7 linked regions of the Homo sapiens genome follow. The protein of the gene in region 2 purifies or fractionates together with the protein of the main gene of each other region. This does not show direct contact. Each region holds a gene or a part of one and is shown on either strand. Other genes may lie near its edges.

Region 1 (3,663 bases), on a different chromosome or scaffold from region 2:
GGCTCTGGATATGGAAGGATGCCAGATGCAGGCAACTGCACAGGTGCTCTGACGCCACTGGCCTAGGGCCTCCTATGGACTTCACAGGGCTGGACAACAGAGCCTTCAGCAGATGGAGTTGAGCCCAGGGACCCTCACCACTTCAGCAACATGTGAGCCCTCGGCTCCTGGTGCAACAAAAGGGAGCAAAGCAGCCAGGGAAAACGACTCATGTTGGTTTTCCCATCAGTCTTGGAAACTGGTGGCTTGCAGTCAGATTTTGTGGGGTTTAGGAAAGTAAGTGAATGCAGTGGGTTTTTCTGCATCTTGAATGTTGGCGAGCAATTCACTGAGGAAATTCCAATGGTAGTAGCTTTCCTATGGGTGAAAATGGCAGAGGCCCCTGTCCAAAAGGTAATCAATCTAGAGGTCCCACTGGCCTCAGACATTTGCCCTGGTAAGGCTGGCCTGCTGGCTCCCAGGAGTTCAGACCCTTCTGTCCTGGGGCAGGAGACACACAGTGAGGAGACAACATAAGGCCTCCCCAAGGAAGTGCTGTTGACGGTGAGAACTGCTAGGAAAAGAGGAGTTAGGCAGGCTGACGAAGAGCTGGGAAAGGAAAAAAACTGGGCAGAGGGCCCACGCCAGGGCCCGGGACAGGCGCACACCTGGAACAAGGAAGGACAAGCGGCAGCTGTGGCTGTGAAGGCAGGGCCCGAATGCGTGGGTCAGGCACTGGCCAGCTCACAGATGGCCCCAGAAGCCTCGTTACCAAGTCTGAACTTTAACCTCAAGACCCAAAGGGTTCCAAGCAGAGAGCTCATCCCAGCTATCATGCAAGAAATGGATTAGAGAGGTGGCCAGGCTGTAGGGAGAGGGCTAGAGGCTGCCTTAGAAATCCTGGCAGGAGATGGGGCCTGGCCCAGAAGGCTGGCAGTAAGGATGATTCCGAGGATGTTTGGAAGGCAGAACGGGCAGGCTTGGGTGACTGATGAGATCACTCCAGTTACTGGCTTGTGTGACAGAACACATGGGTAGTTAGAGAACACAGGACTCAGGACATGGGTCATAGGTTTGGGTTTTATCATGCAAAGTCTGTGTGAGAGGCCTCACAGGCAGCTGGAAATGCAGGCCCACTTGGGCTAGAGACATGGACTTGGGAAGTGTTGAAATGAGTGTGGTGATCAGGATCCTGGGAGGGGGTGGGAACACCTAGAGGGGAGAATTCAGTGGGCGAAAGAGAGCCTCAGGCAGAATGCCACCACCCAAGGGATGGCCCAGAAAAGAGACACCCAGAAAGAAGACCGAGGAGGAGCAACCAAGGGCAGGAGGAAAGCCGGGGGGGCAGGTTGCCAAGGCCAAGGACAGAGGGAGTCTCTAGAAGCAAGCGGTGGTCAGCAGCATCCTGGGAAATAATGCTGGCTCCACATAAGCAACCAAACGTCCACACCCCTGGCCTTCCGCCACCCCCACCATCGAAAACCACACATGATCTAGAATTTAATATATGTTTATTTGTGTAGTAGGAACATTCAGGTATATAAATAAGGTAAATGCTTTCCAACGTACAGTATATCATGTTCTTACATTGCGTGGAAAAAGAACCTACATGTATTGTTCAACATGGATCACGAGTGCACAGAGAGAGAGATCAGCTGCATTTAGTGAAACGCCAAGTTGGGAAAATGGCACAGCAGTAGCGCACAGGCACACAGCTATCTGGGGAGGCTGTGGGGACTGTCACGTGGACTCTACACACCGAGAACTGCTTCAAGGTCGCCTGTGTCTGAGTGCGGGTAAAGTGAATATCAACACCCAGGCTATCAGGGTGAGACAACTGAATTCCATCATGTCCATCCACTTTACAAAGGGGTGGGAGGCACCATGGAGAAACTGACCAGAAATGCTCTGCCCTGTCACAGAGGAGACAGAGCCAGGGCAGACACGGCTGACCTCTGGGAGGCACAGACACTGGCAGTGATGGGTCCCATGGGATGCCTGGCACTCCCAGCACAGACAGCTCCCCAAAGCAGGTGGGGAGGCCCTTTCTGTGTTTGGGAACTTTTTAGTTAAACAAATCCTCAGAATCGAATTAAGAAGGATGTCCACAGCTCGATCAAAAAAAAAAAACCAAAAAAAAAAAAAAAACCACCAAGGTTCCCAAGATCCTTCAACAGAGGGGCTTCCCATCTGATCTTACCCTCCTGTTTCAGAAGGTATTAAACATCAATAAAAATTAAAATATATTATCAGTATCAACTCTAGAAGATAACCCATGGCTTCAAATCTCCCTGGACGGGTTCTCTGAGCCCAGATTTCTGGTCCCCAACTCGTATGACATCCAGGGCCAGCGAGCGTTCAGCTGGCATCTGTTAGAGTCTGCCCTCCACTGTGAGACTCCTGGCCCCTCCGTGGCCCTGGTATTCCTCCTGCTGCTGCCCCTAGGAGTCCTCCAGCTGGATAACAATAAACCAAACCGCTGTCTCCTAATCCCTGACTTGTTCTCCTGACTCCTAGTCCTTTGGTTTCATCGGCCCCTGATGTCTGTTCAACTCTTCCCCTTTGTAATCAGCCCCTAGCACCCAGTCAGCATGACGTAAGACAGAAAAACAGTTTACTAAAGGCCAGAGCCCTGTGCACAGAGGATTTAAAAGAAACAGCACCCAAAGGACACTCATGAAAACATGTATGCACATTCTGCCTGCTAGAAAACATTCTCAACCTCTTTTCTACTCTGCTGTTCCTTTAAGAAAAGCCAGCATACAAGAACCTAGCGCAGGTGTCAAAAAAAGGCATCCAAACTGCGAGGACAGAGGTGGCTATGTGGATGATTATCGGCAAACACAGTTTCACTAGAGACAAAATCACCAGGTGGCTAACCCTTCTGAGTGCTTTATGCAGGCAAGGTCCTCTGGGGGCTGCAAAAGGCTAGGCCCTGCCCAATGCCCGGGAGACCACTGCAAAGGCATTCTCTGCTTGATTTCCAGAGGGCCCTTACCACAACCCCCTCCCCGGCCCAGCAGTGGAGGCTTTCTATGGATACAAGGCTGCCTAGGTCTATTCAACAACACAATGAGGGAGGAAGCACCAGGCAAGGCAAACACAAACCCAGAAGGACAGGAGGGCTCGGGGGCAAGCCTGGGATTGGCCTGTCACAGCAGCTGCTTCCTAGAAACCCCCACAACCATCTTCTCCTGGTTCATGGCATTATCATTACTTCAGCAATTCAATGAAACAGAGGGACCATTATTTCCATACTATTAATAGCAATGTGCTGTTGGGTCCCACTAATACCCAGGAAATAATCCACAGTCAAACCAGTAGTTCAGTTATTATTCAACTGACCTAGGAATTTCATGGATCCTGTTAGCCAACACCATTCCTTCAAAGTGAGGCAGCCTCCCCTTACACACACGTGCCCCAACTCCCCACCCCCATTCAGAAAACTAAGTTCAAGAAACTCTTTTCATTAAGTCCTGTGCCTGTTCTCCCTTCATTCATGAGTCACCCATTTGAGTCTTTGCTAACCTAGAATCCGGCAGAAATACCTCACATCATGTGTCCTCAATGGGTCACCCACTTCTACCCGGTTACTACTTTTAGAAGGAAACATGAAGCTCCAGATTGGCTGCGTCATAAGGATGTGGGCAGAACTTCTAGGCTTTTAGTCTACATAATCCCCTA
Region 2 (4,901 bases):
TGCAGTGGCTCATGCCTGTAATCCCAGCACTTTGGGAGACTGAGGTGGGTGGATCATCTGAGGTCAGGAGTTTGAGACCAGCCTGGCCAACATGGTGAAACCCCAGCTCTACTAAAAATACAAAAATTAGCCGATGATGGTGGTGGGCGCCTGTAATCCCAGCTACTTGAGAGGCTGAGTCAGGAGAATCACTTGTACCTGGGAGGTAGAGGTTGCAGTGAGCTGACATCGCACCATTGCACTCCTGACTGGGCGACGGAGCGAGACTCCGACTGAAAAACAAACAAACAACAACAAAAACAAACAGACTTGGGATGCCCCATGTGAGATGATGTATTTATTTGATCGTGGAAGCTGAAAATGGCTGTTTGGGGTTTGGGGCCAGTGGTTCTCCCTGTCCAGGCCCCCCAAGCTCACCTTAGGGTAGTAGAGATGGCAGACCTCGCCCAAGTCCTTGCCTGTCACCACGCCCAGACGTGCAGCCAGTCGCTGGCAGAGCAAGCCCAACACGGTGGCCCAGAGCAGCACCCAGAGAAGCTGTGAGGAGGCAGGGAGAGGCCTTCAGCCAGAGAGGCCAGCCTCAGAAAGCCCCTGAGCTCGTGGTACCCTCTAACCAAGCATACTCCTCGGGGAGGGGGTGGGAGAGATGGAGTCCCATCCTGGCTGGGCGCTGGTAGCTCACCCTGTAATCCCAGCACTTTAAAAGGCTAAGGTGGGAGGATTGCTTGAGTCCAGGAGTTCAAGAGCAGCCTGAGCAACATAGTGAGACCCCCATCTCTAAATAAATAAATAAATTACGCCAGGCAAGGTGGCTCACACCTGTTATCCCAGCACTTTGGGAGGCCGAGGCGGTGGATCACTTGAGGTCAGGAGTTCAAGACCAGCCTGGCCCACACAGTGAAACCCCATCTCTACTAAAAATACAAAAATTAGCCAGGCGTGGTGGCATGCACTACTCAGGAGGCTGAGGCAGGAGAATCACTTGAACCCGGGAGGCAGAGGTTGCAGTGAGCCGAGATTGTGCCACTGCACTCCAGCCTGGGTGACCGAGTGAGACTGAGTCTCAAAAAATAAAATTAAATAAATAAATAAATAAATATACATATATATATTTTAAAGAGAGGAGTCCAGTCCCCTACCCCCCACACAAATGCCCCACCTTCTGGCAGGGCTGCCCTGGGGACCCTTTTCGGGCCCATTTGAACTTAACACCAGCTCCCAGGCCACATTGGAGAAACATGGCCAGCAGGGGCCTTCAACACTTAGCCTGGTCACCTCCCTCTCGAAAGTGTCCCCACTCAGGTCCCGACTTAGTTACTTTGAATCCCGCCACGGCGCCAGCCTGAAGATCTGACTCGATGTTTCCTGGGTCCAGGAAAGCAATGCTCATGAGGAAGCCAGGCCCCGTGAAGGCCCATAGCTTCCGCAGGCTGAAGGTGCCCTGTTGGGGGGTGGGAGGAGTAGAGTGAGGGGGTCCTGGGTATAGGGATGGTGGCAGCTGGCCTTGGCCATCCCCTAGAGGAGCCCCAACAGGCTCATCAGCCCAGCCCTGCCCTCCATGGCCCATTCCTGGGTCTGCCACCCAAGGGATGGGGAGGGCATGGGTGGAGGAAGCAGCATGCTCTGATGAGTCACAGAGGATCTTTTTCTGGATCTGTTAAGCTCAGCAGCCGGCTTGCACCTGAACTGCCTGCCCCTCAAGCCCTGACTTGTCAGGTCCTCAGAGACCTCACAGGGGGCTGTCTAAGGGGGTGAGGGGGCCAAGCTTCCCTAGCCCAGCTCCTCCCTTGCCAGCTCCTTTTCAGACCACGGGGCCTCCTCTCTGTGGTCCGCTGAGGCTATGGTCCCCCCACCCTGTTCCAGAGCATGGCATATTGACTTAGAAATCTGCTGAAGATATTGGAGGCTGGGAGCGTTGGCTCGTGTCTGTAATCCCAGCACTTTGGAAGGCCGAGGTGGGTGGATCACTTGAGCTAAGGAGTTTGAGACCAGCCTGGCCAACATGGTGAAACCCTGTCTCTAGTAAAAATACAAAAATTAGCCTGGCATGGTGGTGCATGCCTGTAATCCCAGCTACTCGGGAGGCCGGGGCAGGAGAATCGCTTAAACTTGGGAAGCGGAGGTTGCAGTGAGCTGAGATCGCGCCACTGCACTCCAGCCTGGGCTACAGAGCGAGACTCCATCTCCAAAAAAAGAGAAGATACTGGAAATGCAGGTGACAGCATCCTAGATGCTAGATGCCAGCCTGCAGCCTCCTTCACTTCTCCCTATGCCCTTTCCTAAATGCTATAACATGTCCTCAAGGCTCCAATCCCAATTCCCCCTGGGCCTCTTTTCCTTCATAGGAAAGCTGAGATTCATTGAGAAAGTCATTTAATCGCTTTTAGACAAATACTGAAGCACCCCAGCTAAGCACTGGGGACGGAAGCAGGAAGGGGCAGTTGCCACTGTCCACCACTGCTGCTCAGACCTGGAAGGGACTTGCCACCCATGATCATAAGGAGACCCCATTCTCCAGCCCATGGGATCCTTCAGGATCCTGTCAATCTTGCAAGCCCCCAGGAAGTTTCCAGCATCCCACCGGTTTTGTGTCTGGGATGGGGATCTTCTCACTCAGGTAGGTCTCTCTGGGAGGTGCTTGCTGTGGCCCTGGGCTGGTCGGGCTGGTCGGGCTGGAGATGGAACCATAGCTGGACCCGCTTAGCCTTTGGGGACCCTTGTCACCTGTGGGGGCCCATGAAGCATGGTGAGTGTCCTGCCTCTTTCTGGTGGCCCAGAGTTAAAGCCGCCTGATCCTTTCCCTCCTCCTCCCGGAAAAGTGGAGAAACTAAGGTCCCTGGCCCCCATCTTGGGTCCATCACCTCCACCTCTCAAACAAACATTCCAGATGTGTGGGACATGGCAGCTTCAGAATTACTGTCCTCTCATGTGAGGACAGATGCCCAGAGGCAGATCTCCTGCCACAGAGAATGCAGAGAGACCCTAGGCTCTAAGAAGGGCAAGCTGAGGCCACATGTCTGCCCCTTGGCTGGACCCCTCACCTTCTCCGGCAGCCCAGAAAGCTCCAGGGGCTTTGATCCACGGACTTCAGACAAAGGAAAGGTAGACCGCTTAGGGGTGTGAAGGACTCCACCCAGTGAGATTGAGTCTGGTGTCCAGAACTGTGTTCTAGACTAGGACTCCCACGGGGGACCAGAGGCTTCCACAGGGGACCAAGGGCTTTCTTGCTTCCTCAAGTCTCCACCAGCCTAGTGATCTCCTCCACTCCACCCCCCAATCAGGCTCTGTCCCTAGGGGCCACTACTCACCTGTCATTGAAATGCCGACTTCAGGTACTCTGGGAGTGTGAGCGGTGCTCTGGGCAGCTCCTCAGCCTGCACCCCCTCTCTGGGCACTGGTGCAAGTAAGTGTGCCAGCCCACGCCCTGTTACCCATCCGCAGCCGAGTGCCCTGCCTCTTACATCAACATTCGGTTCACATCGGCCGATTCACACACACACACAACATGGGGCGTTGTGAAACATTTTCCAAAGGCAGAAGTGGCCAGCCCTGGCGGAAGGGTCTGGTTACCCATGGAGTGGACCTTTGTTCCCCTCCCAGCCTGCCCTGTGCCCCACAACACATCTGTTCCCCTTCCAGGCACCCCGTGTTCTGTGCCTCCCAAGTTAGCTCTGATTTCAGATGCTTCCTGCCCCTTGCGTATTCATGTCAATACCCCATGACCACACCCCCCTCTGCCACACACACACACACACACGTACACACACACGTACACACACACAGAGTCAGGTCTTTCTTATTCTCTTTGATCTGGAGTTCCAAGACCCCTCGTTGGCCTAATGCGAGTCTTCATGTCCTCAAAGGCTTCAGTTTCCCTTTGAGGGCCACAGAGGAAGGCACTGCAGAAGGGACATGCATTGAAGATTCAGACCCAGGACGTCCCCAGAAGATGGGGCACTGGGATCTGGTCCTGGTTCAACCACTGATTCACTTGAGATTGTCACCAGATCATGTCCCTTCTCAGAGTTGTTTATTCTATTCCACCCCCACCCTTTTTTTTTTTGGTTTTTCGTTTTTTGTTTTTTTTTTTAGAGACAAGGTCTCGCTCTGTCACCCAGGCTAGAGTGAGGTGTGAAGTGCAGTGGTGCCATCTTAGTTTACTGCAGCCTCAAACTCCTTTTTTTTTTTTTTTTGAGACAGAGTCTTACTCTGTTGCCCAGACTGGAGTGCAGTGGCATAATCTCAGCTCACTGCAACCTCTGTCCTCCATGTTTAAGCAATTCTCCTGCCTCAGCCTCCTGAGTAGCTGGGACTACAGGCATGCACCACCACACCCGGCTACTTTTTGTATGTATGTATGTATGTATGTATTTATTTACTTTGAGATGGCGTCTTGCTCTGTCACCCAGGCTGAAGTGCAATGGCGCGACCTTGGCTCACCGAAACCTCTGCCTCTTGGGTTCAAGTAATTCTTCTTCCTCAGCCTCCTGAGTAGCTGGGATTACAGGCACCTGCCAACCACACCTGGCTAATTTTTGTATTTTTAGTAGAGATGGGATTTCACCATGTTGGCCAGGCTGGTCTCAAACTCCTGACCTTGTGATCCGCCCGCCTCAGTCTCCCAAAGTGCTGGGATTACAGGTGTGAGCCACTGTGCCCAGCCAATTTTTGTATTTTTTTTAGTAGAGACGGGGTTTCACTATGTTGGCCAGGCTGGTCTCGAACTCCTGGTCTCAAGTGATCCACCCACCTCAACCTCCCAAAGTGCTGGGATTACAGGTGTGAGCCACCATGCCTGGCATATAGCCTTAAACTCTTGAGCTCAAGAGAGCCTCCCTTCTCAGCCTCTCGGGTAGCTGGGAATACAGACCTATGCCACCATGCTTGACTGTTTCTTCTAT
Region 3 (4,473 bases), on a different chromosome or scaffold from region 2:
TTGGTAAACTTGGCCCAGAGTAAGTCTCTCACTTTTTCTTCCGTTTCCCTTGGGCCTACACTTGCTTCTAATGTTTCCTCCTCTAGCAGAACAGTCAGGACCAGGGCCACATCTTTAAAGGCAGCATTCTCATGATCACAATACTTATAGAAGATCAAAGTGGAGCCGGCAGGGAAGGATTCGAAGTGGTGTACCACAGCAGCCTTCTGGCCATTCTCAAACCCATAGCTCAGCTCCAGGTCAACCAACAGCTTGACCGTGTCACTGTCCTGCCAGGTCCTTCCAGCCCCATCAATCTGAATGGGAGAGACTTTCTGGGAAGAGGTGTAGGCATCTGCAACATGGTGGCTCAGGCACTTCAGGGTCTCTCTTCCCTCCCGAGCTGCTGTAAATATGATGGTGGCTGGCTCAGTGGGGTTGGAAGCATTGAGGTGCTTCTGGAGAAACTTCCGTCCTCTCTGCCACAGGAAGGAACTCTGGCCTGGAAATTTATCTTCCAATTGGCTAAACTGGGCCAAAAAGGCCTCCAAAGCTGGATTTTTGGGCACTTGCTGGGCTGGAGAGGAATAGTAGCTATTCACAGAACTTGCCACAACAGCCACAACCAGGACGACAAGAATCACAGGGCCTGTCAAAAGAATGAAAAAGGAATAGAAAATTACAGAGAACACGAGCCAGAAACAAAGCCTGTGGTAAACTGAAATGAGGCAGAGATACCAGCAGGTTTTACTAGGAGCAATAAGTTTCTTTTGCATAAATTGTTTAAACTTTCAATCCACCAGAAGTACCTTTTCTCTAATCTCTTCTCAGATTTAATTATTTGAAGATATATCTGTTAAAAGATAAAAGCTACGTGGAAGAGTTAAGTACTCGGTAAAAAATTTTTAAAAATAAAAGGTAAAAGCTGAGTCTATGTATTTGTTATTATAACTAATGATGTAATTTAGACATGAGTGATCAAGATTTTTTTTCATCTTCTCAATGCACCTACTACCTATAGCCGACCATTTTTTTAGGAGTCATAACTTTAAAGTGCACTTGAAAAATTAATATTCTCTAATTAGAAAGGCAGTTTTTGTTTCTTGTTTAGGAAAAGCCTTTCCTATTGTGAGAAATTCCATTTTGTTAAGCACAGCAAAATATCAGCCAGCACCCGTAAGGGAAAAATCCCTAAAACTCTAGTGTACTATTTTACTATGTCTCACTACCAATCATTAAATAAGTATATATAAACACAATGTTAAAACTGTTTAAATCTGCTAGTTTTCTAGGCATTTTCACTGAGGATTTCTGAAAGTGAATCAACACTGCAGTAAAACCAGGTTTGTTCTCACCATAGCTCCAAAAACCCTTTTTATTAATCTGTCTCATGGTGTCCTGTGCATTCTCTTTAATTTCTTCCAATTTTTGTGTTTGTTGTGGATGACTTCCAGCCTCTGGAGAGGAAAAGAATCAATATTATTTTTAGGCAGTACACTAATGACAGTATGTATACCTTTATATCTCTCACCAAACCAAAGAATGATTTGACTAAAAGGCTTTCTATACCTTGGCCAGGTACGGTGGCTCATGCCTGTAATCCCAGCACTTTGGGAGGCTGAAACAGGTGGCTCACTTGGGGTCAGGAGTTTGAGACCAGCATGGCCAACAAGGTGAAACCCTGTCTCTACTAAAAATACAAAAATTATCGGGCATGATGGCGGGCGCCTGTAATCCCAGCTACGTGGGAGGCTGAGGCAGGAGAATCGCTTGAACCTGGGAGGTGGAGGTTGCAGTGAGCCGACATCGTGCCACTGCACTCCAGCCTGGGGGACAGAGCAAGACTCCATCTCAGAAAAAAAAAAAAAAAAAACCAAAGTTAACATTTTTCCTGTCTTTTCTTTAAGACTATTACTTTTATTCTACTTAGAAGGATAAAATGAAATACTGTGAAATTCATTCAAGGATAATGTTGCTATATTCACAATTCCTTACTGCCTCTTATATCAAAGACAAAGACATTTAAATAGTGCGGCCAAACTTACCTAAAATGTAATTCAGCAAAATGTATAAAATCAAGAAGGGATTTAAGAAATGTTGGCTGTACACAAGATTCAACTTCACAGGGTAATTGTGCTCTAATTCCAGTGTTCGAGTTTCACATGGTTCCTCAAGACCCCGAATATAAAAATAACAGAGGCACTAAGTTCTAAGATAGGAGAGATTAGTGTACAGTTGCAAAATAGCTTACAGAAGCAAATTTGAAACTCTTAGTGAAGGAGATATACAAAGCAAGGAATATAAGGTGAAGAAAATTCACGAAATATGTAAAAATCCAGATGTAGGGAGGGCATGCCAAGCTTAAAATATGTGGGTGAAAAGAAGGGCAACAATTTTTAGCACTCTAAGCTAAATCACACTAGAATCTAAATTTGTGCTTAACCCCAGCCAGGTACTTCTATTAGCATAGATGAGTAGGATCATCTTCACTTATAAAGGATTGTTCCTATCACCCCAAAGAGTAGGTTCTTAAAATATCATATCATAGAATCTAAGAACTGAAAGGATCTATAATGGACACCTACTCCGGCCCCATTACTTAACCTATCATGAAAAAAGGTCCAGGGATATTAAAGATCTTGCCCAAGGTCACATAAAGAGATGTAGCTGGCTGGGCGCAGTGGCTCACGCCTGTAATCCCAGCACTTTGGGAGGCCGAGGCGGGCGGATCACAAGGTCAGGAGATCGAGACCATCCTGGCTAATACGGTGAAATCCCGTCTCTACTAAAAATACAAAAAAAAAAAATTAGTTGGGCACGGTGGCGGGTGCCTGTAGTCCCAGCTACTCGGGAGGCTGAGGCAGGAGAATGGCGTGAATCCGGGAGGCGGAGCTTGCAGTGAGCCGAGACAGCGCCACTGCAGTCCGGCCTGGGCAAAAGAGTGAGACTCCATCTCAAAAAAACAAAAAAAAAGAGATATAGCTAAGTTGAGATGAAAACAAAGTTTCTCATCTCTTAGAGTATAGATAACCTCATTCAACTATATTAAATTGCTTTCCATACATAAACTGCATTTTTTTTTTTAAAGACAGGGTCTCACTCTGTCAACAAGGCTGGAGTGTAGTGCTGAAATTTCGGCTCACCACAGCTTCAACCTCCTGGGCTCAAGCAATCCTCCCACCTCAGCCTCCTGAGGACTATAGGTGCATGCAGCTGTTTTTGTGTTTTCTGTAGAGATGGGTTTTTGCCATGTTGCCCAGGCTGGTCTTCCTGGCCTCAAGTGATCCACCAGCCTTGGCCTCCCAAAGTGCTAGGATCACAGGAGTGAGCCACCACCCTTGGCCTAAACTAGATTTTTTTAAACAATATTTTTTCTACTCACAGTGAACCTGCCTAACAGTGAATTTTTTTTTAAGAGATGGGATCTCACTAGATTGCCCAGGCTAGCTAGAATGCAGTGGCTATTCACAGGGGTGATCATAGCACACTGCAGGCTTGAACTCCTGGGCTCAAGCAATCCTCCCAACTCAGCTTCCCAAGTAACTGGGACTAGAGGTGTAAGTAATTGCACCTAGTTTATAACAGTGAAATTCTGACGCAGGTCATGGTCCTTACAGATCACATTCATTCATTTGACAAAATTCATAAAGGTGTTTCTATGTGCCAGGTGCCAGAGATACACAATGAATGAGAGGACACAGTCCTTGCCTTCACTGAAGTTACAGATTATTCTAATGATTAATAAATAAAACATATATTTGAGATTAGTCATTGATTTGCAGTGAAACATGAATTACTAGCCCTTGCTGAAGTCCCTGATGAACAGAACATCTTATATTTTATATTCTTTTGCACTGGCAAATGGGCATTTCAGACTGAGCTCTTCAGAGTGCTTATAAAATACAAACCCACACAGACAATCACAGAAGGTGAAAGTTAGAAGAATGTTTGGATATCATCTTGTCCAACTTCTTCATTTTACAAACAGGAAATTGAAGCACCAGGAAGGGAAGATTTTCCCAAGGTCTCCCAAGTCAGCAAGTGGTAGGGCCACAACTAGAATTCACACCTCCAGTTCCAGTTAAGGATTTAGCACACTGCAACGCTTAGCTTCATAAGGGAAGACATGCTTGTTCCTCTTAACATATAGGCAGAAAAAACCACGTATAGAGAAACTAACTGTCTTACTCAAAGTCCTATAAAACTGAAACATGACTGAGTTAAGGATACTGTCCCATTAATGCTCATTTTTAAATATACCCATCTCTTGATTTATGTAACATTTAGTTTCCCAAAAAGTAAAAGATTTTAAAAATTGTAAGTCGAAATATTCTCATAAGAAATAAAAAACCAGAAGCGAATTTTTTAAAAGTCATGCCCCTTTTTGTCATATCACATTAATATAAACAGTTAATAAAAACATGCTTAGAAATGCAGTTTATGTGTAGGAAGCAACTTAATATAGTGGAATGAGCTAGCCTAGATGAGAAACCT
Region 4 (4,473 bases), on a different chromosome or scaffold from region 2:
CAACCTCTGCCTCCTGGGCTCAAGTGATTCTCAAACCTCAGTCTTCCAAGTAGCTAGAATTACAGACACGCACCACCACACCCAGCTAATTTTTGTATTTTTACTAGAGACAGGGTTTTGCCATGTCGGCCAGGCTGGTCTCGAACTTCTGACCTCAAGTGATCCATCTGCTTGGGCCTCCCAAAGTGCTGGGATTACAGGCATGAGCCACTGTGCCCAGCCCATCACTGCTTCTTCTAAACCACCTGGTGTGACATCCCCTCCTAAGATGGAAGTGAGGAAAAGGGCACTTGCCTATTCAGAGGACTCCTGCTTTGCCTACATTCTGCTGTTATTAAATCACAGCTGTGGCTTTGGGAAACTAATTCATTAGGCCAATACAATGCTGGAATGCACAACCAAGAGAAGTTCTGGAGTCTGACCCTCTGTTGATACTTTAGAAGAGAAGGGACAAGCATGTGGTGTGGTGGATTCAGTTCTTTCCTTGGCTGATCACTGAGGGCTGACCAGATGATCTGGCCTGGCTTTACATCCTGTTTGCTGCCATGTTGCACATGATGGTCATGACCGCACATTCACAACCGGATTATTTACACACAGGCTGGTGAGGGGAAAGGGAGGCAGCTGACGGGCAGAACTGAAGGACTTACGCATCGCCTGCACTAATGGCCATAATTTTCTGGATGCCCCCGGTGTTTAGAAGGTCGCGTGCATTCTGGTAACTGTTTTGGATTATGTTGTTCAATGTGTAACAGGCAGAGGCTGTAGTTTCAATGAGAAGGTCAGTACTCGGGACTGTGTCAGGAATGATGGAAACCAAATCAGGGAGAGTTTCTTTGGCTACAAAATGAAAAAAAAAACAAAACACTTGATTAAAAAGATTGTTTCTTAATCCCAAGATCCCAATATATTTTGGGTGAAGAACATTCTTTTTCTTTTTTTGAGACGGAATCTTGCTCTGTTGCCCAGGCTGGAGTGCAGTGGCACCATCTTGGCTCACTGCAAGCTCTGCCTCCCGGGTTCACGCCATTCTCTTGCCTCAGCCTCCCGAGTAGTTGGGACTACAGGCACCCGCCACCACGCCTGGCTAATTTTTTTATTTTTTTATTTTTTTTTATTTTCAGTAGAGACGGAGTTTCACCGTGTTAGCCAGGATGGTCTCGATCTCCTGACCTCGTGATCCGCCAGCCTCGGCCTCCCAAAGTGCTGGGATTACAGGCGTGAGACACTGCGCCCGGCCAAGAACTTTCTTAAAAAGAAACACAGCTGGTTAACAACACATGGAAAGATGTAATTTCCCTAATAACAAATTTTTAAAAATATTTGAAAAGAGGATACTCTGTGCTCAGTATATTGAAAATCTTTTCAGAGTGTAATTTGGCAGAAATGTCAAGAACTTAAAACATTTTCATCTTCTTCAATTCGGTAATTCCATGTCTAGGAATACATCTTAAAAATATCACTTTGAAAATGAAAAAAGCTTTCTACAGAGATCTTTATGACAGTACTACATGTAACTGAAAAACTAAAAAGCCTGAATATCCTTATAATAGGACTATGATTAACTAAAACACACCTGCAAAGACTATTATTCATCACAAAACCTATCTATGAAGCATGTATAATAAAAAGAAAATAATTATGTTAATAGTGTATGTGAAAAATCAGTATATTTATATAAATAATACATAATATTATTGGCCAGGTTCGGTGGCTCACACCTGTAATCCCAGCACTTTGGGAGGCTGAGGTGGGTGGATCACTTAAGGTCAGGAGTTCAGGACCAGCCTGGCCAACATGGTGAAACCCTGTCTCTATTAAAAATACAAAAATTAGCTGGGCGTAGTGGCACATGCCTGTGCCTGTAGTCCCTGCTACTCAGGAGGCTGAGGCACAAGAATTGCTTGAGCTTGGGAGGCAGAAGTGGCAGTGGGCAGAGATCACGCCACTATTCTCCAGCCTGGGCAACAGAGAGAGACCCTGTCTCAAAAAAAAAAAAAAAAAGAATACATACTATTACCAAAAAACCCACGTAAGAAACCTGAGGAAAAATGTTAATAGGAGCTGTTTTTCTACAACAATATTAATAGTGAACTAAAATCTTTTTTTTTTTTTGAAACAGAGTCTTGCTCTGTCACCCAGGCTGGAGTGCAGTGGCGCGATCTCGGCTCTCTGCAAGCTCCGCCTCCCGGGTTCATGCCATTCTCCTGCCTCAGCCTCCCGAGTAGCTGGGATTACAGGTGCCCGCCACCACGCCGGGCTAATTTTTTTGTATTTTTAGTAGAGACGGGGTTTCACCTTGTTAGCCAGGATGATCTTGATCTCCTGATCTTGTGATCCGCCCGCCTGGGCCTCCCAAAGTGCTGGGATTAGAAGCGTGAGCTACCGCGCCTGGCCAAGCTAAAATCATTTTTAAGGCCAGGCAAGGTAGCTCATGTCTGTAATCCCAGCACTTTAGAAGGCCGAGACAGGAGGATCACTTGAGCCCAGGAGTTTGAGACCAGTCTGGAAAATATAATGAGACCCCGTCTCTATTTTAAAAAGTAAAATTAAATAGTAAATAAATAATAAACGAATAATCTTTGCTTCCCAAGGTTTTTCCAATACATAAGTAATACTACTCTTGTTTTTTTTTTTTTTTTGGAGATGGAGTTTCGCTCTTGTTGCCCAGGCTGGAGTGCAATGGCACGATCTCATCTCACTGCAACCTCCGCCTCCCAGGTTCAAGCAATTCTCCTGCCTCAGCCTCCCGAGTAGCTAGGATTACAGGTACGCACCACCATGCCCGGCTAATTTTTTGTATATTTTTTTTTTCAGTAGAGATGGGGTTTCTCCATGTTGAGGCTGGTCTCGAACTCCTGACCTCAGGTGATCTGCCCGCCTCAGCCTCCCAAACTGCTGGGATTACAGGCGTGAGCCACTGCGCCTGGCCTACTATTTTAAAAAGAGAAATAAACTATTTTAAATGTACTTTTCTACTATGTATATAACTTCTTGGTTATAAGTTTTGAGTTTGGCTTTTTTTTTTTGTACTAACAAGAAAGGTATTAAAAAAATAGACATGCCACTTTCACAATTAGGCTATAGAAAATAAAAAAGATACATAGACCAATGGAATAGAATAGAAAACCCAGAAATAAAGCAAAATACTTACAGCCAACTGATCTTTGACAAAGCAAACAAAAACATTAAGTGGGGAAAGGCCACCCTATTCAACATATTCAACAAATGATGCTGGGATAATTGGCAAGCCACATGTAAAAGAATAAAGCTGGATCCTCATCTCTCACTTTATACAAAAATCAACTCAAGATGGATCAAAGATTAAATCTGAGACCTGAAACCATAAAAATTCTAGAAGATAACACTGGAAAAACTCTTCTAGACATTGGCTTAGGCAAAGAGTTCATGACCAAGAACCCAAAAGCAAATGCAACAAAACCAAAAATAAGTAAATGGGATCCAATTAAACTAAAAAGCTTCTGCACAGCAAAATAAATAATCAGCAGAGTAAACAGACACCCCACAGAGTGGGAGAAAATATTCACAAACTGCATTCGACAAAGGACTAATATCCAGAATCTACAAGGATCTCAAAAAAGCAAGAAAAAAGCCAAATAATTCCATCAAAAAGTGGGCTAAGGACATGAATAGACAATTCTCAAAAGAAGATATACAAATGGCATAAGAAAAATTTTTTGATACGCCTCATACATATGAAAAAATGCTCAACATCACTAATTATCATGGAAATGCAAATTAAAAGCACAATGAGATACCACCTTACTCCTGCAAGAATGACCATAATTTAAAAATCAAAATTTAATAGATGTTGGCATGGATATGGTGAAAAGGGAACACTTCTACACTGCTGGTGGGAATGTAAACTAGTACAACCACTATGGAAAACAGTATAGAGATTCCTTAAAGAACTAAAAGTAGAACTACCATTTGATCCAGCAATACCACTACTGGGTATCTACCCAAAGGAAAAGAAGTCATTATATGAAAAAGACACTTGTACATGCATGTTTATAGCAGCACAATTCACAATTGCAAAATATGGAGCCAACCTAAATGCCCATCAACCAACGAGTGGATACAGGAAATGTGGTATATACACACCATGGAATACTACTCAGCCATTAAAAAGAAAGACATAATGGCCTTTGCGGCAAATTGGATGGAATTAGAGACCACTATTCTAAGTGAAATAACTCAGGAATGGAAAACCAAATATTGGATGTTCTCACTTATAAGTGAGAGCTAAGCTATGAGGATGCAAAGGAACAAGAGTTATATAATGGATTTTGGGGACTTGGGGGAAAGGTAGGAAGGGGTGAGGGATAAAAGACTACACATTGGGTACAGTGTACACTGCTCAGGTGACATGTGCACCAACATTTCAGAAATAATCACTAAATAACTTTTGCATGTAACTGAACACCACCTGTACCCAAAAATCTATTGAAA
Region 5 (4,473 bases), on a different chromosome or scaffold from region 2:
AATATTAAAGAGCACTATATTACATATTGTAATTACAACAGAGACTAAGAGCTCAGGTGTGCTGGGTTTGAGTCTGACTCACCTACCATTCCCCATTCCTCCCAGCCATCCCTCCTCTTCCCGCTGCCTACCACCAGCTCTTCAGGCCAATCTCATACTTAAATCTACAAAGAATGCTACAGAATTCACTTCTCATATCCCAAATTATGTATATCTAGCACACAACACACATTATATCCATAAGGGCGTGTACACTTTTAGAGATTTTCCTCAAGAACTCCAGGTATTTTTTTTTAATTTTCTCCTCATAAAATATTCTCCTAAGCATGCTTTCCCTACTAGACTTACCTGCTGTCTTACTAGACACCTTAAAAGTGGTCTTCAAAAGGCAGGCATTCTACATGGCTTTTTGACTAAACCACAGCAAACAGCCTATAGTATATGAAGAAGAACAAAGATGAGAAGTTGAACCTGGAAAAAAAAAAAAAAAAAAAGAAAAGTAATCAAAACTATATCTGTGATCGTGTGTGCCCCCTGTAATGGAATTCTGTGTATTTCTCTCACCATCCTGCCCTAACAGTGAGAGGAGTCCAGTCCACTAAGCCTGCTTACTTTTTTTTTTTTTGAGACAGAGTCTTGCTCTGTCGCCCAGGCTGGAGTGCAGTGGCGCGATCTCGGCTCACTGCAAGCTCCGCCTCCAGGGTTCATGCCATTCTCCTGCCTCAGCCTCCTGAGTAGCTGGGACTACAGGCGCCCGCCACCACGCCCGGCTAGTTTTTTGTATTTTTAGTAGAGACGGGGTTTCACCGTGTTAGCCAGGATGGTCTCGATCTCCTGACCTCGTGATCCGCCCGCCTCGGCCTCCCAAAGTGCTGGGATTACAGGTGTGAGCCACCGCGCCCAGCCCGAACACTTACTTTTATGAAATGACACCAAAGACTACAGTAGATACCACTCCTGACACCATCCTTGTCTACTTTCTCTTTAATGATCCACTATGGAATTATGCCCGTGTGTGTAATCAAATCCTTCTCAAACCCACCACCTAACTTCACTTCTCTGATAAGCACTCAGAAGACTGCTGGTGTGACTACTGACTATAACAATGGCTGACTTTTGTCAATTATTGATATTACACAGCAGAGTGCCAAATTAACAGGCAGTGGAGGAAGGGACACCACAACAAAGAGGACCAAGAGGCACAAAAAGAAAGGACTCTGGGAGGAGCAGGATGGCAGTGTCCTGACCCCAAGGAAGAACACATGGACCTGCTTCAGTGATTGCTCTGCCCTCTTCTCTTCCTGCATGCATTTCAAAGATAAAGCATCATGGTGTGGGTGAGTCTGCTGACAGGAACAGAATGTGATAAACTGGCCATGCACAAGCTACACAACAGCTCATATTATGCTTCTGATTAGCTCCAGCACATTCATCTACCCCTTCTCTATCCCCTACCCCTATCACTGCTTTAATTCTGACATCTGAACTCCCTGCCACTAGTCTCCTTTTCTTCCAACCCATTCATCGTACAGCTACCAAACCTGTCTTCCAAACAGAAGCCTAATGTGATCTGCCTGTTCACATGTCCTCCAAGTCAACTAAGACACCTACAGTATACAATTTGAATATGGCATATAAAGCTCTTCACAGTCTGGCCCATGACCAGACTGCATTCTCAAAATACTGGCCCACATGTAACTCCCTGACTATTCCAGCGTCTGTGCATTTGTATAAACTATTTCCTCTCCTTTACACTCCCTGTCTTGCCACCCGGCCATCAGGCAAACTCCTTCATCCTTCAGGCAGGACAGCTTTTTAAGTCAGCTGTCTTTCTGTAAACACAGGGACCTGGTTCCAGGACTTCCCCCATATGCCAAAATCCACACATACTCAGGTCCTACAGTCAGCCTTGTGGAATTCCCATATATGAAACATCTGCCCTCCATATAAATGTTTCACATTCTGTAAACGCTCTTTTTTATTGGCATTTGGTTGAAGTTCTAACCTCTGTTATTCATGAGTCAACTGTACTGGTCAATTCCCCACTTCTTCCCAATCTTCCTAGAAGCCCCAGCTGTACATGTCACCCTCTGGCACTACAGCCTGATACCAAAAACAGGATGCCAGCTCCTGGAGAGGAGGGACTATTATCCCTTTATTCACCTCTGGAACCGTTGCACATCCCTGACACACAGTATGTGCTCTGTTCAATCCTAACATTCTCTCAATCTTAGACTCACAGGATTTTAAAACTAGAGGAAACCTAAGTTACCATCTAGTCTCAAAGTCATAGGATTTGAGGGTAGGAAAAGACCTCAGGGATCATCTACTTTAAAACTTCAATTTATAGTTAAGGAAACTCAAGCTTGACATTAAACAGCTTGCCCAAATCAGACAAATGATCAGTATCTGATGAGAGAATAAAGTTCTGCTATCTGTCCAGGTTCTTTGTAGATATACACAAACTAATACAGTGGAATTTAGTAAGATCTTTTAAAGCCTGTACAATAGTCCAAAATAAACAAGATGAAACAAACACTTAGAATCCACATATCAAGTGCATAAATACAGGACTATAGAGAACTATATCCCATATTCTGCACTGGGCAGAGTACACTATTCCAGTGGATCACTGTCCCCAGCTCTGGGCAGGAAGGACACTTTAAGAGAGTCTCTAACAAACTAGGGAACATTAAAAAAAAAAAAAAAAAAAAAAAAAAAAAGGCAACCAGGATGGCAGATGGCCCTTTAAAAAAAAAAAAGTCATTTACAAATAAAGACATTTAACTTCAAAAGGGGAAGAATTATAGATAATATATGAGCTATCCTAGAAGTGACAATCAGAAGCTAGCAGGAAAAGAATTGTGGCTTAACACAGTTTACAATCTACTCTATCATGAACTAGAACGAGTTCCTTTGTCAGGTAGGAGTACTCCATAATTAGAATCTGATGATCAGGCCGGGTGTGGTGGCTCAGGCCTGTAATCCCAGCACTCTGGAAGGCTGAGGCAGGTGGATCCCTTGAGCTCAGGGGTTCAAGAACACCCTGGGCAACACGGCGAAACCCCGTCTCTACAAAACATACAAAAATTAGCCGGGTGCAGCAGAATGCACCTATAGTCCCAGCTACTCGGGAGCCTGAGGCAAGAGAAATCGCCTGAGCCTGAGAGGCAGGAGTTGCAGTGAACCAAGACTGCACCATTACACTCCAGCCTAGATGACAGAGTGAGACCCTGTCTCAAAAAAGAAAACCAAAAAAAAAAAAAAATGATGATCAGCATAGGACTAGAAGGATCTTCAGAGGTCTTGAGTTCAACCTCTTCATTTTATAACTGAAAAGACTGATGCTGAGGGAAAGAAGTGACCTGTCAAAGATCACAACACTGAGGTCAGAGGGAACAGTTTTTTTATTCTGGTTTTCTCAATTCTGGTCTCTGCTGTAACAAAATGCTGTCTTTCCCACAGTAGCAGAACGATCCACGAAGATGTTACAGAATTTAGTCCCAGAATTCAACTTTTAGGCAAAGCCTAGAGAGCTGGGCGTCCTTCCAGCTTTTAGGTTCTAGCAAAATTTCTTCCTAAATTTAAGAACTCCTAACCCTAACTAAAAATTAACTCAGAATTGTCCAGATTAACAAAAATTTCTTTTTGTCTTTGAGACAGATTACATCTCGTCTCTAAAAAACCTAAATTCTAATCATTGGTGCTCTGCCAGTCTATCACCCAGTATCCTTCAATGCAATGTTATGCCAGATGGTGTATCATACCTATTTCCCATCTCCCATTCAATTTCTTCTTTGAAGTCGAACACCACTGATCATCTTTTAAAACACATCTGATGCATAGTTTTTTAAATTAAAATTCAATAAGTAGAACATGTTCAAAGCTAAATGGGTTCTATTAGTCTATACACACTAGCATTGTTCTTTATCTTAGCGGACTTTTTTTCTTTTTTAGAGACAGGGTCTCGCTCTGTTGCCCAAGGTTTTGGTGCAGTGACGCCATCACAACTCACTGCAGCCTCATACTCCTGGGCTCCAGAGATCCCCCCGCCTCAGCCTCCTAAGTAGCTGGGACCATAGGTACCTGCCACCACATCTGGCTAATTTTTTTTTTCTGTAGCGATGAGGTCTCACTATGTTGTCCAGGCTGGTCCTGAACTCCTGGCCTCCAGAGATCTTGTTGCCTTGGCCTCTCAAAGTGCTGGGATTACAGGTGTGAGCTACCATGCCTGGCCTTTAAGAAATTAATAAACTGGGCGGGCGCAGTGGCTCACACCTGTAATCCCAACACTTTGGGAGGCCAAGGCAGGCGGATCATTTGAGGACAGGAGTTCGTGACCAGCCTGGCCAACAGCCAACATGGTGAAACCCTGTCTCTACTAAAAATACAAAAATTAGCTGGGCGTGGTGGTGCATACCTATAATCCCAGCTACCTGGGAGGCTGAGGCAGGAGAATCGCTTGAACCCGGG
Region 6 (4,473 bases), on a different chromosome or scaffold from region 2:
ACCTCAGGTGATCTGCCCGCCTCGGCCTCCCAAAGTGTTGGGATTACAGACGTCAGCCACCACACCCAGCCTGGCCCCTTCTTCTTTATGAAATGGACTTTCTTCAATTTTGTGATTTTTTAAAAAACTTAATCCTCGCTTATGTTGGAAAATATGAAAAGTATAAATTAGGCCGGGCGTGGTGGCTCACGCCTGTAATCCCAGCACTTTGGGAGGCCGAGGCAGGCGGATCACGAGGTCAGGAGATCGAGACCATCCTGGCTAACACGGTGAAACCCCGTCTCTACTAAAAATACAAAAAATTAGCCGGGCGTGGTGGCGGGTGCCTGTAGTCCCAGCTACTGGGGAGGCTGAGGCAGGAGAATGGCGTCAACCTGGGAGGCGGAGCTTGCAGTGAGCAGAGATCCTGCCACTGCACTCCAGCCTGGGTGGCAGAGTGAGACTCAGTCTCAATTAAAAAAAAAAAAAAAAAAGTATAAATTACCCATAATCTCTTACATAAATTCCTTATGATTTCCTTATATTTATTTATTCTTATAATTTCTTATATAAATCTCTTATAGTGTCTTTCTTAAAGAAATCACTGTATATAATATTTCCTGCTAGTTCTTATAACACTCAGAACCCCCACAGCACTCTCAGACCTGAGTTGCCTCTCCAGCCTGGGCTTTCCATGATTCTTGGGATGGATGCAGGAATGTCGCCTGTTTATTTTCATTCATGGGCTTGGTGACCACTGCTGCCCCTCACACACTGCATGGCTTGGAGCGGGTCTTGAACCTTAGCTTGCTTGTTTGTAAAATGGGAAAAATAAGATGGTCATGAAGACCCAGACAGCTTATAGGACCTACCTGGTAAAGCACTGTAATGTATATGTCTGTAATTGTCTAGTTGGTGGGCCTTTGGGGTTGCTTAGGTAAGGAGGAAAAATACCTCCTGTATGTCTCAGATACAAATGTAAGTTTTCGTCTAGTGAGTGTGGTCTGGTCTAGCCAGGGGCAGTGCTGTAACTTTAACCTATATGATTTTCCTTCCCACCAGAAAGAGCATGAAGCAGAGCCCTTCAGCGGGTGTGCACACCTTCTGTGACCGGCAGAAACCCCTTCCGGACGGTGCAGCCCAGTATTACGTAGCAGGTAGCGCTCAGCACAGCTCTGGCCCCAAACTCTCGGCTAGATGCTGACTCTTTTGGGGGCAGTCCAGGGAGACAGCATGGCATGGTGGTCAAGAGCAAGGGTTTTAGAGTCAGACAGACCTGAGTTTTAATCCCAACTCTGCCATTGACAAGCTATGTCACCTTCAGCAAATTACAGAAAAGAAACTCATCAAGGTTAAGTAAAATGGGGTTATAATGACTAAATGAGATAAAATATATAAAGCAACTAGCCCAGTGCATATAGTAAGGGCTCAACACTTGTAGCTGCTTTTATGCTAAAGTTGATTGGTATAATTTTTGATATGACTGACTTCACACAATCTCATGCCCCTTTGAAAGGGACTGGGACCCTAGTATGACTGGGCTATTCCCTGCAGGTCACCTGCCAGTGAAGCTTCCTGACTACAACAACCGTTTGAGAGTGCTGGTTGCCACCTATGTGACCTTCAGCCCCAATGGCACAGAGCTACTAGTCAACATGGGGGGGGAACAGGTATGTACAGCATAAGGTGGTTCTGCCCCATCACCATTCCATGCCCAGCAGCCAGGGGCATGTACCTTATGTTCACTGCTGAGGCAGACAAGACACAACAGCCTTATGGTAAATGATGTTACATTGAAATGTGGGGGTGATGTGGCATCATTGGAGTTCCCAGAGAGATGTCCTAGCTCAGTCTTTTTATTTCATTTTTTCTTAATGAACTAGATAGAAATATGATAGTATGGCATTTTGGTTAAGAATATAGGCTTTGGAATGGACAGACTTCTGTTCAAATGCTGGCCTGCTGTTCAGCAGCTGTTTACTGTGACTTTGAGCAAGTCTCTTTATTTTTCTGAGCCTCAGTTTCCTCGTCTGCTATTTTCCTAGGAGGAAATCCCTGGGGCTCAGAGCATGCAGCTCAGAGCAAGCTGTGGGTTAGTGCCAGCTTTGGGAAGTGTTCTTTGATAATGGCAGGTTGCTAAACCTTCTGTTTGTGTGCTCTCAGGATATTTAGTAAGCCTTGCATACATTTATTTACTCTACCAACACTGAGCACTTACTCTGGGACTCGCATTATTATAAATATAATAGAGACAAGTGGGAAATATGATCCATCCCCAGGCTGATGGGAGACATGACAAACGAAACAGTTAATGACATTACAAGGCAAGGCCCAAATATATACAAATGAAGCGGGATGCAGAATAGGTGAGGATAAGCCAGACATTCCTGGACCTGTCCAAGGAATCATGAAAAGCTCAGGAGTAGTGCTAGGGTAAACATTTGGCTTTGTGACCTTTGAGGACTTCTTCATCTTTTTAAACATGTGACGTGTTTTTTGTTTTTTTTTTTTGAGTTGGAGTTTCGCTCTTGTTGCCCAGGCTGGAGGGCAATGGTGCGATCTCGGCTCACTGCAACCTCCGCTCTGCCTCCTGGATTTAAGCAATTCTCCTGCCTCAGCCTTCCAAGTAGCTGGGATTACAGGCACATGCCACGCCTGGCTAATTTTGTATTTTTAGTAGAGATGGGGTTTCACGATGTTGGTCAGGCTAGTCTCGAACTCCTGACCTCAGGTGATCCGCCCACCTCACCCTCCCAAATGCTGGGATTACAGGCATTAACCACTGCACCTGACCTTCTATTTTGTTTGTTTGTTTGTTTGTTTTGAGGCAGGGTCTCATTCTGTCACCCAGGCTGGAGTGCAGTGGTACAATCTCAGGTCACTGCAGCCTCGACATCCCAGGCTCAAGTGATTCCCCCACCTCAGCCTCCTGAGTAGCTGGGACCACAGGCACACGCCACCACACCTGGCTAGTTTTTGTATTTCTTGTAAAGACGGGGTTTTGCCATGTTGCCCAAGCTGGTCTCAAACTCCTGGGCTCAAGCAACCACCCTCCTGCCTCAGCCTCCTAAAGTGCTAGGATTACAGGCTACGCCACCATGCCCAGCCAAATGTGATTCTAATTAATGATAGTATTTCAAGCAGGACTTTGGGTAGATCAGATAGCCCACCCTGAATGCTAGAGCTAGGAAGATTTTCCAGCCTGAGGTTTGCTGGAAGTACCTCTTAGGATAGCTTGATTGTTCTATGCTCAACACTCACTGTGTTCCAAGACTCTAGTTCTTGAGAAACCAAGACCTGCTTACTGGTTCAACCACATCCTTACCTCACAGCTTCCATCTCTTTTTTTGCCCCCCTCAACTCTAGGTCTATTTGTTTGACTTGACTTACAAGCAGCGGCCGTACACCTTCCTCTTGCCTAGAAAATGCCACTCCTCGGGGGGTAAGTTCTCCCTTAGGGTATCTCTACTGCGGCGGTGTAGGGGAGCTTAAGTGCATGCTACACCTGCTGAGAAGCCTGCCCTTTACTCTGGACCGTGATCCTCCAAAAATAGCAGATCTCTGAAATAACCCCACCTATGCAGTAAGAAAGAGGATGACAATAGAGCAGAGATCTCTTCAAGAGCTTTGCATCACTGCCCTTTTTGCTTCCCTCTGAAAAGACAGGTTCCTTCCATGGCTTGGCTCTTGAGAACCTGAAATAGTTCCCCTCTCCTTTGTATCCTGGCCCAGTCTTCTCATTGATTTCTTCCTGGGGCCTACAGTTGATTTAGGCACCTCCTCACTCCATTCCCACCCCCAGCCCCAGCCCTAGCCCCAGCCCCAACCCTAGCCCCAGCCCCAGCCCTAGCCCCAGCCCCAGCCCCAGCTGAGTAATGCCACGGTGAAGTTGTGTCCCTCGCCAGCCAGCAGAGGGCGCACGGGCTTTTCTTTATGTCAGAACTTGCTTTCTGGGAATGGATCTTACTCTGGGAGAACAGTCCCACGATGGAACCATCAGACCCCGTGATGGAAGCTAGAGGGCTGCCAGGAAGAAATGGGTCCTCTTCCTGAGTTGTTGCTGTCACTTTCTCACTATCTCCTGCCAGAAGTCCAGAATGGCAAGATGTCCACCAACGGTGTGTCCAACGGTGTGTCCAATGGCCTGCACCTTCATAGCAATGGCTTCCGGCTGCCGGAGAGTAGGGGACATGTCAGGTGAGGCCAGCTGGCTTGTCCAGCCCTCCAAGCCCCAGTTACACTATATGGACTGGAGGGAGGGACATAACCTGTAAATCTTCCTCCTGACCCACACCCACTCATGCATCCCAGAGAGTGAGGACCAAGGCAAAGAGCCTTCTTGGAGGGTGCCTAGTGTTTCCAGTGCCCCTCTGCCTGGCAGAACACTAGTCATGGTCAGACTGTAGCTCTAGCCTGTTGGTACCAGTAACTGGGGTCAGGACTCAGGAGCTAGCTGCCTCTTAGCACTGAGCTGTCTCCAAAAAGGGGCTGCAT
Region 7 (4,473 bases), on a different chromosome or scaffold from region 2:
ATCCTCTATACGAATCTTACAGGTAAGGAAAATAAATCCGTATTTTAGAAATTGAGGAAACTGAGGTTCAGAGAAATAAAGTAACCTGCCTATGGTTTCCCAGCCAGTAAGTGGCAGCTCTTCTGATAGCAAGTCCAAGGTTCTTTCCCCTTTCAGATCAGGCACTAGAAAGAATCTTAGGCTGAAAATATACTGAGTTGTGCCAGTAACTGGGAAGGATTGTGTTTGTTTTATGGAAACAGGTTCTGTCAGCTTCTCTATAGTCTATAGTTGTTAAGATTAAAATGTGAGACCAGAAGAGCAGCTTTGAAAGAGAAGTAGAATTCTTTCACAGTTTTGCTGAGGAAGGACAAGTCTGAAGGAACAGGCCTTCTGCTTATGTAAGACAAACCCAGGAATCTTTCTGGATCAGAGGAGTTTTCAGACAAAGGGCAGAGAGAGACTAGATCCCCAAAAGGGTTCCTAGGTAACACTAGCAGCTTTGGTTATCCAAGAGGCTGCTGGTGACTGTAGGTAGGGACTTCCTGTGCCTTTTGAAAAGTGTAGGAGAGTAGGATCAGGGTGTTGGCTCTTTTCTTTGTGAAGACATAGCCCCATTAAAAGCAGATCAAGGTGAGCACATGGCTGCTGCTTTCCTCCTTTGGTTCTATCAGTACAAGCTCCTTAGCCACCACCAGCCTCTTTCCTAGAAGCCCATTACTCACTCTTTCAGTAGCAGCCTACTAAACTATTGTGTCTTGTTTGTGCTTGTTCAGGAGAACAGATGAGGTGGACGTGTGGGAGGTGGGGACGTAATGTTCTCTTTCTGAGTTTGTGTGGAGTTTCCAGGGCTAGGCTCCTCTCTCACATCAGCCAAATTGATGTGACTTGTTTCCTTCTGGCTGCCATTCCCAACTTTCCAGAGGCTGAGGTGCATGATTTCAAATTGAAGGGGGAGTAGAATTTGACTTTGAAGGTAGGGGTAATTCCCTCCAATCTAAACATGCACACTCGAGCACACTCTCTGCTCAATTCCAAGGTGCATAGTAATTGCTGGTATTACAAACAGGTAATTCCACCCTTGCAAAGGAGGAGGGGACTTAAACAATGAAAGCCAGACGTCACAGGCCTTTGAGGTTTATAGTGAAGCAGGCACATATGCCATAATGACTTGAAGGCTCAAGTGGGACTAGTTTTTAGTGCTACCTACCCCTCCCCAGCATGTGATTCATGCAAAATGCAGCCACCTTAATGCAGATCTTTCTAGACAAATCTACACTCGTGATGGGGACGTGTTTATCATATTACATCGCAGTGTTTCTTCAACAAGAGGAATGGTTCCTGAACAGGACGTAGCTCATGTTAATGATGAGCAAAGCTCTCTGGGGCATGAACCCGCTGATCCCATCATCTTGTTCACGGCCAGTCTGTTGGATGAATGGTCACTGTAAGCAGCAGGTGCTAATGAGCTGAGCAAGCATTCTGTGGCCCACAGCTAGTTTGTGCAGTTGGAGCCCTCCCCAGATTCTCGTGGATAATCCCCAGACACCCCCTTTTCTCTCTTCACATGGAAAAGCCTCATGATCAAATTTTGGCACCATCTCTTCAAAGGGAATCCCCCTGTTGTAGCAGGTTGCATCGTGGTTGGTAATCTGTGGTAAGCTTGGGAGTATGAATGTGGGTCTCTTGTCCCCTTTTGAGAGTCAGTGTGGTAACTCCCATCCTCTTCCTCTGGATTAGTATCTGGAATGGAGTTGTGTCGTTCTTGCACATCTCCCCTTCTATTCAACAAGAGAAAGAATCAGACTTTAAGATTTCGGCTCCCCACTTGGGAATGGCTGCGAACCCAGTTTAAACCAGAACTACCTGGGCCTAGGTTGGTCCCTGAGAATCAACCTGCATTCAGTGACTAGTTTACCTATCTGAAATAAAGTTAGGGTTCCTTTTCTAGATATTAGGTATATAGAGATGAAAGAGAGATGATGCAAGCCCTCAGACAATCAGGCTGGTGGAGAGGAGTAAATTCCAATGCGAGCTCGCTACCGTCTTCTAAAGGAGATGTGCATATGTACTCTGAGGCCCTGTAGGAGGGGCCTCTCAGCACCTAGGGGTGTTGGACAGGCTTTGCTAAAGAGGGATGGTCTGGGCCCTGAGACACAGTGACCCAGAGAAGTGGTGGTGGTCAGGATGGGACCAGTTCTAGTCCTGGTTTAGGGAAAATGCTAAGAATCTGCTGTTGCCTTCCCATATAGACCCTCCTGATGTTGATGCACTGCTAAGAAACACATCTGGTACCAGGACTGACTAGGATGTAAATTTCCTAAGTAGAGGCTTCCCCTTCCTCCTCTCTTGCCTTTTGGGCATTTTATTGCTCCTTAGCACCTCCATGAGGAGGACAATTGTGGAAAGTAGTGGACGAGGAGGTGCCAGGGTAATAAGAAGGAGGAACCGCTATCTCTAGGTTCAATGGAAAGGATATAAAAGTGAGGTCCAGAAGAAAAAGTTTGAAGTTTTGGGGCTTTTGGTTCCTCAGTTTATCTTGTTTCTTATTAGCCTAGATGGTACTAGTAATAGTAGCTACCACTAAGCACTTAATGGATGCCCAGCCTTCTGCTGAATGCTTTATATTCATGATCTCATTTAATCCTCAAAACATTTTTATAATTTAGGAGATTATTATGCCCATTTTATAAATGAGGAAACAGCTCAGGGAAGTAAGTAATTGGCTGAAAGTCACACAGCTTCTAAGTGGAAGGGCTGGGATTGGAACGGGATCTGTCTGCTTCCAGAGCCCATGTTCTCATGGTATTGGGCTCCCTAACACCAGGTGTTCTGATGTTTCAGGTGAAGAGATTGTTTTCTGAAAGCTGCGTTGGAGGCTGTGACAGAGCTGAGAGCCTGTGTGGAGCGGATGGGGAGGCTTTCTCAATAACATGGCCCTTTGCCATTAGCCTTGCCATGACCACATTTTTCACCAGCGTCCCCCCCTGGATTCAAGATGCAAAGCAGGAGGAGGAAGTGGGCTGGAAACTAGTTCCCAGGCCTCGGGGCCGGGAGGCGGAGAGTCAAGTGAAGTGCCAATGTGAAATTTCGGGAACACCTTTCTCAAATGGGGAGAAGCTGAGGCCTCACAGCCTCCCGCAACCAGAGCAGAGACCATATAGCTGCCCTCAGCTGCACTGTGGCAAGGCTTTTGCTTCCAAATACAAGCTGTATAGGTAGGTGACACTCTCATATCTCTTCCTGCCCTGAGGTTCCCAGAGGGAAAAAGCAGAGAGACTCTGCCTAGTGTGGGTTTTTAATCTGTGGCAGAAGAGTGGAGGTTAATTTGTCCTACAAGTATACCCTGAATGCCAAACAGTTGAAGTCACTCACTAAAAAATGATTCAGATTGCTTGATTCAGACACTAGAATCTGATGGGTTGCCTCCCCAAAGTATTGGGATTGCTGGCGTGAGCCACTGCACCTGGCCTTCTTACACCTTCTTAGTGACGATCTGGGTGCCAATGTCAGGCAGCCTTGAGTTTTGTTTGTTTGTTTGTTTGTTTTTTTAAGAAATGGGAGTCTTGCTCTGTCATCCAGGCTAGAGTACAGTGGTGCAATCAGCTCACTGCAGCCTCCAATTCCTGGGCTCAAGTGATTCTCTTGACTCATTCTCCCAGGTAACTAGGATTACAGGCTTGAACCACCGCACCTGGTTGTTTTTAATTTTTTGTAGATATGGGGGTGTGGCTGTGTTCCCCAGGCTGGTTTCAAACTCCTGGGCTCAAGTGATCCTCCTGCCTTGGCTTCCCAAAGCAGTGAGATTACAGGCATGAGCCACCGCACTTAGCCCTGAACATTTTTTTTTAAATATTGCTTTCCTCACCTTTGTCAGGTGATGGTCAGAATTTTAGCTAGAAGTTAGGAATCAGTATTCGAACTTTAGAAGGAAAAGTAGACCTTCTGGCCCAGTCTGTAAATTTTAAAGTAGAGGTTCAGAGTAGGGACATAACTTACCCAAGGTCACACAGCTTCAGAGGTCCTGCAGTGCCTCTTCTACTGAATCAGCCTGCTACTTACTCATTTAACTATGTCTGTCTCCCTGTTGCCCACTGGGGCAGCTGCTTTTCTGAAACTTGTAAGCCCAAGAACCCCTACTTAAAGTGAAATTAAACGTAAAAGCCCTGACATAAGGCAGATAGAGAAGAGCAGCTTTGGTTGCTTTGGTGAGGATGGGGAGGCATGGTCAAAAGCAATTTTGGGCCAGGCGTGGTGGCTCGCACTTGTAATCCCAGCACTTTGGGAGGCTGAGGCGGGCGGATCACTTGAGGCCAGGAGTTTGAGGCAAGCCTGGCCAACATGGTGAAACCCCATCTCTACTAAAAATTTTTTAAAAATTAGCTGGGTGTGGTGGCACATGCCTGTAGTCCCAGCTACTTGGGACTCTGTGGCAGGAGAATCACTTGAACCCAGGAGAAGGAGGTTGCAGTGAACTGAGATTGTGCCACTGTA

Evidence for each region.
Region 1: the proteins of SLC11A1 (region 2) and CDS2 purify together in Homo sapiens (affinity purification with mass spectrometry; one large-scale study listed by BioGRID and IntAct). This does not show direct contact.
Region 3: the proteins of SLC11A1 (region 2) and TOR1AIP2 purify together in Homo sapiens (affinity purification with mass spectrometry; one large-scale study listed by BioGRID and IntAct). This does not show direct contact.
Region 4: the proteins of SLC11A1 (region 2) and PKP2 purify together in Homo sapiens (affinity purification with mass spectrometry; one large-scale study listed by BioGRID and IntAct). This does not show direct contact.
Region 5: the proteins of SLC11A1 (region 2) and CHAMP1 purify together in Homo sapiens (affinity purification with mass spectrometry; one large-scale study listed by BioGRID and IntAct). This does not show direct contact.
Region 6: the proteins of SLC11A1 (region 2) and WDTC1 purify together in Homo sapiens (affinity purification with mass spectrometry; one large-scale study listed by BioGRID and IntAct). This does not show direct contact.
Region 7: the proteins of SLC11A1 (region 2) and PLAGL2 purify together in Homo sapiens (affinity purification with mass spectrometry; one large-scale study listed by BioGRID and IntAct). This does not show direct contact.

The regions. Positions count from the first base shown.
Region 1 is NC_000020.11:5,195,698-5,199,360, reverse strand, and holds the end of CDS2 (phosphatidate cytidylyltransferase 2), read right to left. Parts: 3' UTR 1,474-3,663; downstream 1-1,473. UniProt on the Homo sapiens protein: Catalyzes the conversion of phosphatidic acid (PA) to CDP-diacylglycerol (CDP-DAG), an essential intermediate in the synthesis of phosphatidylglycerol, cardiolipin and phosphatidylinositol.
Region 2 is NC_000002.12:218,380,783-218,385,683, reverse strand, and holds the start of SLC11A1 (natural resistance-associated macrophage protein 1), read right to left. Parts: upstream 3,412-4,901; 5' UTR 3,316-3,411; coding exon 3,309-3,315; intron 2,725-3,308; coding exon 2,582-2,724; intron 1,442-2,581; coding exon 1,319-1,441; intron 538-1,318; coding exon 418-537; intron 238-417; coding exon of another isoform or gene 199-237; intron 1-198. UniProt on the Homo sapiens protein: Macrophage-specific antiporter that fluxes metal ions in either direction against a proton gradient.
Region 3 is NC_000001.11:179,846,201-179,850,673, forward strand, and holds part of TOR1AIP2 (torsin-1A-interacting protein 2), read right to left. Parts: intron 2,675-4,473; exon of another isoform or gene 2,025-2,674; intron 1,437-2,024; coding exon 1,335-1,436; intron 629-1,334; coding exon 1-628. UniProt on the Homo sapiens protein: Required for endoplasmic reticulum integrity. Regulates the distribution of TOR1A between the endoplasmic reticulum and the nuclear envelope as well as induces TOR1A, TOR1B and TOR3A ATPase activity.
Region 4 is NC_000012.12:32,795,459-32,799,931, forward strand, and holds part of PKP2 (plakophilin-2), read right to left. Parts: intron 841-4,473; coding exon 651-840; intron 1-650. UniProt on the Homo sapiens protein: A component of desmosome cell-cell junctions which are required for positive regulation of cellular adhesion.
Region 5 is NC_000013.11:114,317,108-114,321,580, reverse strand, and holds part of CHAMP1 (chromosome alignment-maintaining phosphoprotein 1), read right to left. Parts: intron 472-4,473; 5' UTR 349-471; intron 1-348. UniProt on the Homo sapiens protein: Required for proper alignment of chromosomes at metaphase and their accurate segregation during mitosis. Involved in the maintenance of spindle microtubules attachment to the kinetochore during sister chromatid biorientation.
Region 6 is NC_000001.11:27,292,981-27,297,453, forward strand, and holds part of WDTC1 (WD and tetratricopeptide repeats protein 1), read left to right. Parts: intron 1-1,041; coding exon 1,042-1,136; intron 1,137-1,533; coding exon 1,534-1,649; intron 1,650-3,345; coding exon 3,346-3,421; intron 3,422-4,067; coding exon 4,068-4,176; intron 4,177-4,473. UniProt on the Homo sapiens protein: May function as a substrate receptor for CUL4-DDB1 E3 ubiquitin-protein ligase complex.
Region 7 is NC_000020.11:32,200,643-32,205,115, reverse strand, and holds part of PLAGL2 (zinc finger protein PLAGL2), read left to right. Parts: exon of another isoform or gene 1-22; intron 23-33; exon of another isoform or gene 34-1,636; intron 1,637-2,823; 5' UTR 2,824-2,937; coding exon 2,938-3,197; intron 3,198-4,473. UniProt on the Homo sapiens protein: Shows weak transcriptional activatory activity.